3 separate regions of the Homo sapiens genome follow, and all the other regions are reported to be linked to region 2. The links are microRNA targets in miRTarBase. Many come from high-throughput screens and were not tested one by one. Region 2 holds a microRNA gene; each other region holds the end of a gene's coding sequence.
The links. Region 2 holds the annotated microRNA hsa-miR-6719-3p (UCUGACAUCAGUGAUUCUCCUG, at 1,799-1,820, opposite strand). A microRNA usually pairs through its seed, bases 2 to 8, with sites in the 3' UTR of a target mRNA and lowers its output. Matches are read on the target gene's strand: a 7mer-m8 pairs with bases 2 to 8, a 7mer-A1 pairs with bases 2 to 7 and ends in A, and an 8mer does both.

Region 1 (3,243 bases), not on the chromosome of region 2:
CAAAATGAAAGACTTAGGGTCAGGCAGCATTCCAAGCACCATGAACTTGATGGTCCTCATCTAAAGTTAATTCGCTTTCTTTACGGTGGGACGACTCGGACCCCTTAATTTGCTACTGTGATCTGAATGTCTAAAAGGGGGAACAGGCTCTGCAATGCTCCTCAAAGTTGTAAGTCTCTGGTGTATCAGCCCCGGTGAATGCGCTGCCTCGGATTCGCTCAGCCTTGCCTCTCTCCAGGCCCTTGGCTTCTTGCTCATGGAGATCCTGGATGCTACTGGGCCACAGTCATGAATTCATCCCCTACTGCCGGTGGCTGACTTGGCCTTTCCTGGCGTGAGTCTGGGCACCAGCCTGGCCCCATTGTGTTCACTGAGGTGGAGACAGCAGCTGCCCCACCCTTGTCCAACCCAACTGGACCATGGAGGCCCTGGCACCTCCCACCATCTCCAGACTCAGCTGAAGTACCACCCAATGGGGCAGGTGACCTTGCTGCCCCTGCACCTGCACCACCTGAAGTCAAGGTGGAATGAACAGTATGGGAGGCGGGAGACAGGAAGGAGCCAGCAGACACATTTCTTTTTTTTTTTCTTCTCTAGATGAAGGACTTTGAATCATGTTCTGTTCTTTATGGCCTGCTGGAAACATCTCACATGACTAAGCAGCCAGCCCAGTCTTTGGTGAAGCTGTGGCCAGCTCAGCCACGTGACACCTTGTACTTGCTTCCCTCCTTGCCTGCCTCGCTTCCATTTTCCTTCCCTCTGTTGGCCTTGGGAGTGTGCCTCATAGGGTCTCAGAAAACAATACCCCGAAATGAAGGCCTCCCTCGGAAGCAAACATTTCTCTCTGACCTTCTCCTGCCCTCCTGTCTCTGGTCCCTTATTCTCCCCCAAGGCTAGCTATAAAAACTACAATCCCTCTTCACCAAAAGCCTGCCCTAAAACCTAAAAATATTACTCTAACTTTCCTCTTTCTTTCTGTGTAAAATTGGCCATAGGAAATTATTTGACCTTTGTCTGATTGTAGGTCAGAAGACCCCCATCCAGAGAGAGTCCTGCGCCATATGAGGAAGGAAGGAATGCTGCGCAGAGAGGCCGAAAAGAATCTTGACAGACAGGCCTCGCTGGGTTCCCCACTCAGTCTATCAGCATTAGATCAGGCTCTTTTGTCCAACCGTATTTCTACACGGCCATCCATACTTTGTTGAACTGAAGCCTAAAAATGGACAGTTTCTCCTGTATCTTTGGGTGTTCATTCTGAAGGTTCTTGTATCTCATAAAACCATGGTCAAATAAATTTGTGTATTTGTTTGCCTTTTCTCCTATTAATCTGCCTCTTTTTTTTTTTTTTTTTTTTTTGAGACGGAGTTTCACTCTTGTTGCCCAGGCTGGAGTGCAGTGGTGCGATCTTGGCTCACTACAACCTCCGCCTCCTGGGTTCAAGCAATTCTCATGCCTCAGCCTCCCAAGTAGCTAGGATTGCAGGCATGCGCCACCACGCCCAACTAATTTTGTATTTTTAGTAGAGACGGGGCTTCACCATGTTGGTCGGGCTGGTCTGGAACTCCTGACCTCAGATGATCTGCCCTCCTTGTCCTCCCAAAGTGCTGGGATTACAGGCATGAACCACTGCACCTGCCCAGCCTTAATCTGCCTCTTCTTGATGATTTTCAGTGAGCCTTCAGTGAGCCTTCAGTGAGCACGGGGAAGTCCCTATAACCTGCAACTAAAGCATTTAAATTTTGCCTCAGGCTCTGTTTTCTGGAGAACCAGAGCAACAACACATTGAACCTGTTCTTGAAGGACCAGCTCAGGGCTGGCTTTCCATGGAGTCCACATTGGGAAATGGTGGTGTCGAGAACTCCTTTACTGGGACCTAAGCCTAGCCCTGCCATTGCCTCCTACCAGGGGTCCTGTTCATTCACACTCAACCCTCATCTCCAGGAAAAAAAGGCTGAATGAAACCCCGGCTCCTTTGAAGAACAGGAAGAGAGCATTGTGCATTTATTAAAACAACATATAACACAAACTCAGTTACCACCCCGTATGTCTGGGATAGGCACTGAAATACAGCACATCGTCCCTGTGAGTGCTACCCCATCCTCCTGCTCAGGAAAGGAAGTGGGCAGCTGTATCAACCTGGCTTCCTTCCCCTCTTTCTGACAATCGCAGGTCACCCAACGACCAGGCATTATTATACAAAAGTTCCTTTACAAAAAGCACCAAATTGGCATACATATACAAGTATATACAAAAATCACATTTTAAAAATGTACAAAATATTCCATTTTGCACCAATGTAGAAAAGTGTCCTGTGTGATTGTTTCAAGCACGTTTCCAATTCTGGTTCAGTGTCTGCTGGACGCAGCGGTGAGGGTCCTACCCTAGTCCCTGCTCTCTGAGCAGAGAGAAGACATCACCTCCCCATTGCCCCTCCAGGGGCCCCGACCCCTCCCACCCTGGGCCTGTCACCAAGGCCGCTGGGCCCCTCCCCACCCTCTCCAGTCTCTCTGCATCTGGGGGCCTCTCATTCATCCAGCTCCTTACTGGTGTCCTGAAATGAAGAAAAAGATACAGAGGCAAGGGGTGAGACAGGGACTCAGGAGGATCCAAGGCTTACCAAGCTACTGTTTATTCAAACAGGAGTTTGAATAAAACATCAAACTCCAATTCCTCCCGGTCTCTTCCTTTTAAAACCAAAATAGAATTTAGCTGCCCAAATATTATGGATTGTACATCAGTACAAAACTCCAAAAGACTACCTATAGTTTTCAACTGGATTGGAATTTAGTTTCAGTACCTGTGGTTTGAAAAATAACATTTGCAAGCATGTGCTAATTAGCAAACGTCCTTCCTATGCATCAGACACCGTGCTAAACGATTATCTTATTCACTTCCCACTACAACCTTTTGACGTCAGTACTGTTAGACCCCCATACACAGATGAGTAGCCCAAGACTCAGAGAAATTGTGAGCTGCTGTGATTCAGAACCCAGGCTCCTAATCAAACTCTGCCAGGCTGGCAAACTCAGATGCCTACAAGGAGCCAGCAGATAACATGAATGAGTGAAGCAAGCGGGACTGGTGGTGGTGGGGCTGGGCAAACTGGCAAGGGCATGTCCCATTTTTCTTTTCTTTTCTTTGTTTTTTTTTGAGATGGAGTTTCACTCTTTTGCCCAGGCTGGAGTGAAGTGGCGTGATCTCGGCTCACTGCAAGCTCCGCCCCCCTGGGGTTCTAGCGATTCT
Region 2 (3,254 bases):
TCCATAAGCCCTATACCATCGTCACTTTTAGTGGCAGCTCATACAGAGCTGCAAAGTTGAAGCCTTCCACCTCCATCCTCAGCTTTAAGAACAGAGAAGACAAAAACTTAGCGAGGCAGCACCCCTGGCTCAAACCCAACCCAACTTCACCCTGTTCACATCTGGCAGCTTCAAAATGGGCCCTGCCCCTCAGGCTTCACCCTTCCCATCCTAGTGGGCAGTATATTCACACCCCCACCCCAAGCATTATCCCTCAGTTCCCACGGCTCCTAATAATCCCATCCCAGCCAAGCCCCGCCCCTAAGCCTCCCGTTGGCTCTGCCCCACCCAAACTACTAGCCGTGCTCCCAGGACCGGGCCGCCCCCTACCCTCTGGCCAAGCTGGCAGGAGCTGCCGAAGTCCACAATCTTGATGGCGCTGCGCTTGGGGTTGCACAGCAAGATGTTTTCGGGCTTGAGGTCGCAGTGAATGATGCTGAGCTCAGGCGTGGCCAGAAAGAGCAGTGCCGTGCAGAGCTGCTGCGCCAGCTTCCGGGTCAGGTTCAGCGAGACGCCGCGGAAGTGGGTGTTGCGCAGGAGGTCGTACAGGTTGTAGGACAGCAGCTCAAATACCAGGCACAGGTGGTTCCGGAACATGAAGTGCCGCTTCAGGTGTACTGCGGGGGAGGGGAGGAAATGGGCCAGAGAAGAAACGGCTCAGAGAGGGCAGGTGGTGGCCTGGGGTCATACAACGCTCTTTGATTACTAGCCACATTGTGCTGTCCCCACGGGTACCATCTGCTAGTCAAAATCTTTTTATCTAACAACTAGATTCACACAGGAAGTTAATGCTCTTTCCAAGTCTCTGTCAAACCCTCCAATTAAACCAAAGAGAAAGTTTCATTAGTTACTACTAGCTCTAACACATTCTACACTTCCTCATTTAATTTCATAACACTGCTTTCATCTCCCTTGTATTCATTTTTGTGGCAAAGGACACTGGTTTTCCGTTTACTTTAAGGATATACGTTTTCCTTTCAAACGAAACCATTTTAAAATCCACTTGCTGTTTATGATTATGTTGTGATGTTTATGTCCATGAGCAGGAATCAGTTTAAGGGAGGAGAAAGACTGGCACAGATGTTAAGAGTAACAGCTCTGGAGTCCACGACCTCATCAAATTATAGCTCAATTAGTACAAACTGCCACCTCATGCAAGTGACAGCACTTGAATGCCTGAGTTTCTTTTTTCCTTTCTTCGTTTTTTTTTGTTGTTGTTGTAACTGTTGTTGTTGTTATTAGGTTTGGTTTTTTGTTTGTTTTGGGTTTTTTTTTTTTTGAGATGGAGTCTCGCTCTGTCATCAGGCTGGAGTGCAGTGGCGTGGTCCCAGCTCACTGTAACCTCCGCCTCCCAGGTTCAAGCGATTCTCCTGCCTCAGCCTCCTGAGTAGCTGGGACTACAGGCGCGCACCACCACATCAAGCTAATTTTTTCACATTTTTAGTAGAGACGGGGTTTCACCATGTTGGCCAGGATGGTCTCGATCTCTTGATATCATGATCCGCCCACCTCGGCCTCCAAAAGTGCTGGGATTACAGGCGTGAGCCACTGTGCCCAGCCCGTTTTGTTTGTTTTATTGAAGAAGAAACTAGGATGGAAGCCCAGGTTTCTTATCTTCAAGATGTTGTTAATAATGCCCTTCCCCTTATGGGCTGTGGTGAGTTAACTTCCAAGTGCTTCCAAGAGAGCCTGGCCCTTGGTGAGCACTCAGTAACCTCTGACCATTACCAAGAAAATAGGACAAAAATCATAAAAGCAGCAGGAGAATCACTGATGTCAGAGAAGCACAGACCAAACCCTGCTCTGAAGACATCAGCCTCCTCCTGAGAGTAGGGCGGGGGTGTGACCCATCCCTACTGGCTCCAGCTCCCGCTATCCCAGGTGCCCACAGCCCTGCCAGTCCCAGGCCTCACCTATATAGTACTTCATCTCCGTGTCATGCTGGTTCATCAGCTCCAGCAGCCGCAGCTCAATCTGGGCCTGGTTCAGGAAAGCCTTTTTGTTCTTGATGATCTTGATGGCCACAAGCTCCTGGGTCTGATGATCATAGGCTTTCACCACCTGTTGGGGCAGGGCATGTCACGAAGAAAGGGGTGGGAGCAGGGCAGAGCCAGGCACCATTCTTCTCCCTCCAGGCAAGGAGACCCACCAAGAACACTATGCATACTTCGCAGCTGAGTGCGCACCATTAGTCAGGCGCTGGTGTAAACACTGGATGTGAAATAACATAACGACCTTATGTTGAGTCTTGTTATTTAAACTGTTTTACAGAAAAGGCGACTGAGGCACAGGGAAACTAAGTGGGCTAGGGTGAGTGGCCCAGCATGGGACTTGAAGCCACTGAACCACTGGGTGTGTGATCAATGTTAGTGGGGCCTTGGATCAGGGTGGTGGGGGGTGTCCCACACCTGGCCAAAGGAGCCTTTGCCAATGAGCGAGTCAATTTCGTAGCGCTCCAGCCAGCGCTCGCCACTGCGCACGATGTAGTCATGGTTGTCGTCATCATAACCATGGTTCAGGACCTTCTTCTCCTTCTTGTTGCTCGAATCCTGGGGTGGCGCCTGCTGGGCCCGCCGCTTCTTCTTCGCATAGTATACCTGCCCAGCCAGCCAGCCAGGAGATGGGGACTGGTGAGTGACTCATGCCAGCAGACAAGACCCTCGGCACCCAGCCCAGGATCCCCCAGCCCCTGCCCACCTCATTGATGTGCTTGTAGGTCTTGATGAGGTCCACAGAGAGCTTACGCAGCGGGGCTGAGGTTGCATCCCGGAAGGCCAGGGGCAGCCTCCGAGGCAGTAGCCGCACATCAGGCAATACCTGCAGGGCAGGGTGAGGGGTGGGCACTGAGGACGTGCCTTCACCTCCGACCTCAAGAGGAAGAACTGTAAGGGCTGCTGGCACATCATGTATTTGGTTGCTGTCTGTATTTGTTCCACCTGTCTAGGAAAGAAACTCCCCCAGGGCTGAGACTTTCTCTTGTTCTTACTATACCTCCAGTGCCTACAGCAGGGCCTGGCACACAATGGATGCTCTTAGAGATCTGTGGTGTGAATGAGTGAACTCTGACCTTTCACCCCTCACCTTTACTCCTTTCTGAACCTCAGAGGGAGAGATCATATGGAAAACCTGGGCTCTGTTCCTCCCCATTCTTCACTTTGAAGCCAGCCATTTTGGGTACCCTCTGAAGTACCTCTATCTCAATTTACCCTCATCCC
Region 3 (3,254 bases), not on the chromosome of region 2:
AAGCACAGGCCACAACCTGGGACTTGTGGTCAGCATCTGAAGCAGTGGTGAGGGGGAGGAGGGGGCAGTCTTGTGCCTTAACTTGTGGAATCTGATGCTATCATCCAGAAGATAGCATCGGAACTGAATTAGAGGACACTCACTTGGTGTCTGTTAGAAACTTGCTTGGTGCATGGAGAAACAACTCTCACACCTTTGGGTGTCAGAAGTGTGAGTGCTGCATGAGACTGGGAAAAGCACCTTGGTTTGGTTCTTTTCCATCCTTTGTAGGATAAACAGACCTGGTTTTAAACCCCAGTTCCATCTCATCCTGTGTGACTTTGGACAGATGGCAACCTCTCTGAGCCCAATTTCTTCATCTATTAATGGGTTGTTGTGAATGATCTGACACACAGCAATATTCTCTTCCTCTGTTCTTTATCCTTCCCCAAATGGAAAGAGCTTCACCTACTCCCTAGGAATTACTCTTCTCAACCCCCAAGCCCAGAGAGTAAAACAAATGATGGTAGGCTGCTCCCCAGTCCCTATCTAAATGACCTGTGGATCCTCAGTGAGACCCCAGGCAGCCATTGTTGAGAAGCTGGCCGGGGAGGCTGGTTGGATTGTGAAGTTAATCCCCATTCCTTCCCCTCAATGTCCTAGTAGCTCAGTGGCTGTTTTAAAAAGATGCAAGTTTACTCGCTCCAGATAGGTACAGAAAGAAGAATAAATGGAGAATGTGGTGGTTGGAGAATCTTGAAGAAGAGTGAATGAGGTCAATGCTAATTTTATAGATCTAAAACAAACAAACAAATAAACAAAAAACAACTATTGCCAAGACTTCTAGACAACATGTAGCAATCTTGGCTAACAAAGAAAGCAAATGAAGCAGCATCACACAGCAGGTCCAAAAAGCATCATTTGAAATGTCACATATGACCTCTTCTGTTGTTCAATATGCATAGATTAACTTGATAAGAATGGCAAATTCATACGATGTGTCAGACCATCTTTATTGATTTACCCTAATGTTATGCATAAAGTTTATCTCTTCCCCCCATTCGTTCTCATCCTCCCTTCTCTCTCTCTCTCTCTCTTTCTCTGACACACATACACACACATAAAGAAGCAAAGTCACCAGCTGAGAGCGAAGTTTGGGGTGGAAGTTTTGAGGTTTGAGAAAAAAGAAGTCTGAAAGTCTAACCTCTTTTTGAAATGTGCCTGTGATGAAGAGTGACAATCGGCAAAGCAAATCTAATAGGATCTCTAAAGAGCCTTTTCCTGTTGTTTACAATTGTGGCTAAAGCCCTGCACTAGAAAACAACAAATGCTAAGATCCTCCCTGCATCCCCTACCCCCGACCCCCTGGGGCACACACAACCCTCCTCCACCACGTTCTAAAAAGACTGGAAGGACTTGGAAAAACATTCCTATGGGATGAACTAGAAGGTGGCAGGACTGCTATCATCAGACCTCATTTACCCACCGCTTCCAGCTGAAAACCAGGGATTTCACAAAGGAAAAATCATGAGAGTCATAGTTCTGTGGTTTTCTCAAAAGGAGAAGGAAGGGACGCTCTTCCTTCCCACCCCTGAGAACAGGCCAAATGAGAGCAAGCCCACTGGCTGGACTGAGGGTGACCAAATGAATGTGACGATGGCATCTCATTTCCCAGGTGGACATGTGCTGGGCAGCATGTGCCTAGGACTGACCCAGAAGACACACAGCACCACACAACAGGATTGATGTGATGACAAGGCCAAGACAGAAGGCTGTGGGAGGAGTGAGGAGAAGGTGGCCAAGTGCCTGAACAATCAAAGCAGGTTTCACTCAGGAAGCTCTATCTATCTGAGTTGGGTCTTGAAGGACAAGTAAGAATTTATTATCAGGTAGACAAGGATTGGGAAGAGCATCAAGAAATGAAGAAAGGTGATGTATTCATTGGAACATGATTAGTTTAGCATGGTCAATTTGTTATTCGTAAACATAACTCTGGAGGGTAATGAGGGAAGCACGAGCTAGGAGGCTAGTTCATAACACTCAATAGATACTGATTAATGCCTATTGGCTGCCCAAGCACTGTGCTAGGTTCTGTTTAGAAATAATGCAAACAAGCAAACAGACAATAACAAAATTGGTAATGTGTTAACTGCCATGATGAGGAGAGTACTGAGAGCAGCTCAGAGCAGCATCTCCCAGACTTGAGTAGCTTGGATTGCAGAAATCCAGCTGAAAAATCCTCAGTGCAAGAAGGCAATAGAGGTGATAGATTCAGAGTATATTTAGGAGGTAGACCAGCCTAGCAGATATTGTTAGGACCCCACATATGTCCCTCACTGTTCCCATGCCCTTTACAGCTTGCCCCTGCAAGTATCTCTGAGTCTTTACCTGAAGACACTAAGGTTTGGTTTGTACAAAGGGTAAGCCAAGAATTACCAGGGAGTTAGCATCCCTGGCAGTGGTCCTCAACCAGTGTCAGATGGAAGTCAGTGGATAAATACCCCAGGTTTGCTTGCCCTTCAAATGGGACAGTTCTGAGGAATGCTTTAGGCAGAGGACTCAGATGGCAGAGTGCCAACCGCCCACAGTGGAAACCTGCTCATTAACATACCCCATACTAGCTCTCTTCCCTTCCTGGTTTCATTTCCCCATTCTCATATCGGTATTTCCTGGAATCATCTCCCATATAAACTGCTTGCATTCAGATCTTTGTCTCAAAGTCCACTTTGTGGGAACCCAACTTGAGACAAACAGAAAAAACTTTTAGAACAAGTAGATGATGAAAATGAAGACTCAAATATGAGGTCATGAGATTTTTTGCTTGCGAGACGCTGACCCTATCAATTGAGCTAAAGGACTCTTCAGTGTAAGAAAAGGGATAGATTCTGGAAGAACAGGATGAGCCTGAAAAAACTGAGCTTAAGGTGCCCAAGGGACTTGTTATCTCAAAATTCCCTGAGTACAAGGTTAAGACTCTTGACTTTGGAAAAACTGAAAAGAAATAGCAGAAAAGGAAATACACAAAAGAAGAATCCATCAGAAGTGAACATCACGTCTCCCTAAAGGGAAATTACAGTGTCTTCTTTTGACCCGAGAGAATATAAAGCCCTAGCTGTCTCTTCCAGCCGGTTTCTGTATTCTAGTTTCTCATAGTTGGAGGGACTCACTCCTTTAAAACCATACATAACTCCCCACCAGCAGCCAGCAATGGCAGCTGTAGAATCACTGTCTCCACCATGGAAAAAGGCTCGGTGGGCAAGCTCCTTCCAGGAGTC

Region 1: miRTarBase lists TRIM63 as a target of hsa-miR-6719-3p. Seed matches in the 3' UTR shown: 7mer-A1 at 2,156-2,162.
Region 3: miRTarBase lists ADPRH as a target of hsa-miR-6719-3p. Seed matches in the 3' UTR shown: 7mer-A1 at 1,080-1,086.

The regions. Positions count from the first base shown.
Region 1 is chr1:26,049,333-26,052,575 of GRCh38, forward strand. TRIM63 (tripartite motif containing 63) reads right to left here. Exons shown (of 9, transcript NM_032588.4): 9 at 1,969-2,551. The coding sequence ends at 2,541. It overlaps LOC105376910 (a long non-coding RNA gene), which reads left to right. Exons shown (of 2, transcript XR_001737948.2): 1 at 1-713; 2 at 1,025-1,322. Among named protein-coding and RNA genes, the nearest start is that of SLC30A2, 4.8 kb to the left of the region's middle.
Region 2 is chr19:39,827,928-39,831,181 of GRCh38, forward strand. MIR6719 (microRNA 6719) reads right to left here and starts at 1,875; the gene lies at 1,789-1,875. It overlaps DYRK1B (dual specificity tyrosine phosphorylation regulated kinase 1B), which reads right to left. Exons shown (of 11, transcript NM_004714.3): 3 at 2,737-2,856; 4 at 2,448-2,636; 5 at 1,953-2,100; 6 at 370-656.
Region 3 is chr3:119,587,663-119,590,916 of GRCh38, reverse strand. ADPRH (ADP-ribosylarginine hydrolase) reads right to left here. Exons shown (of 5, transcript NM_001125.4): 5 at 972-3,254. The coding sequence ends at 3,039. Among named protein-coding and RNA genes, the nearest start is that of PLA1A, 8.6 kb to the left of the region's middle.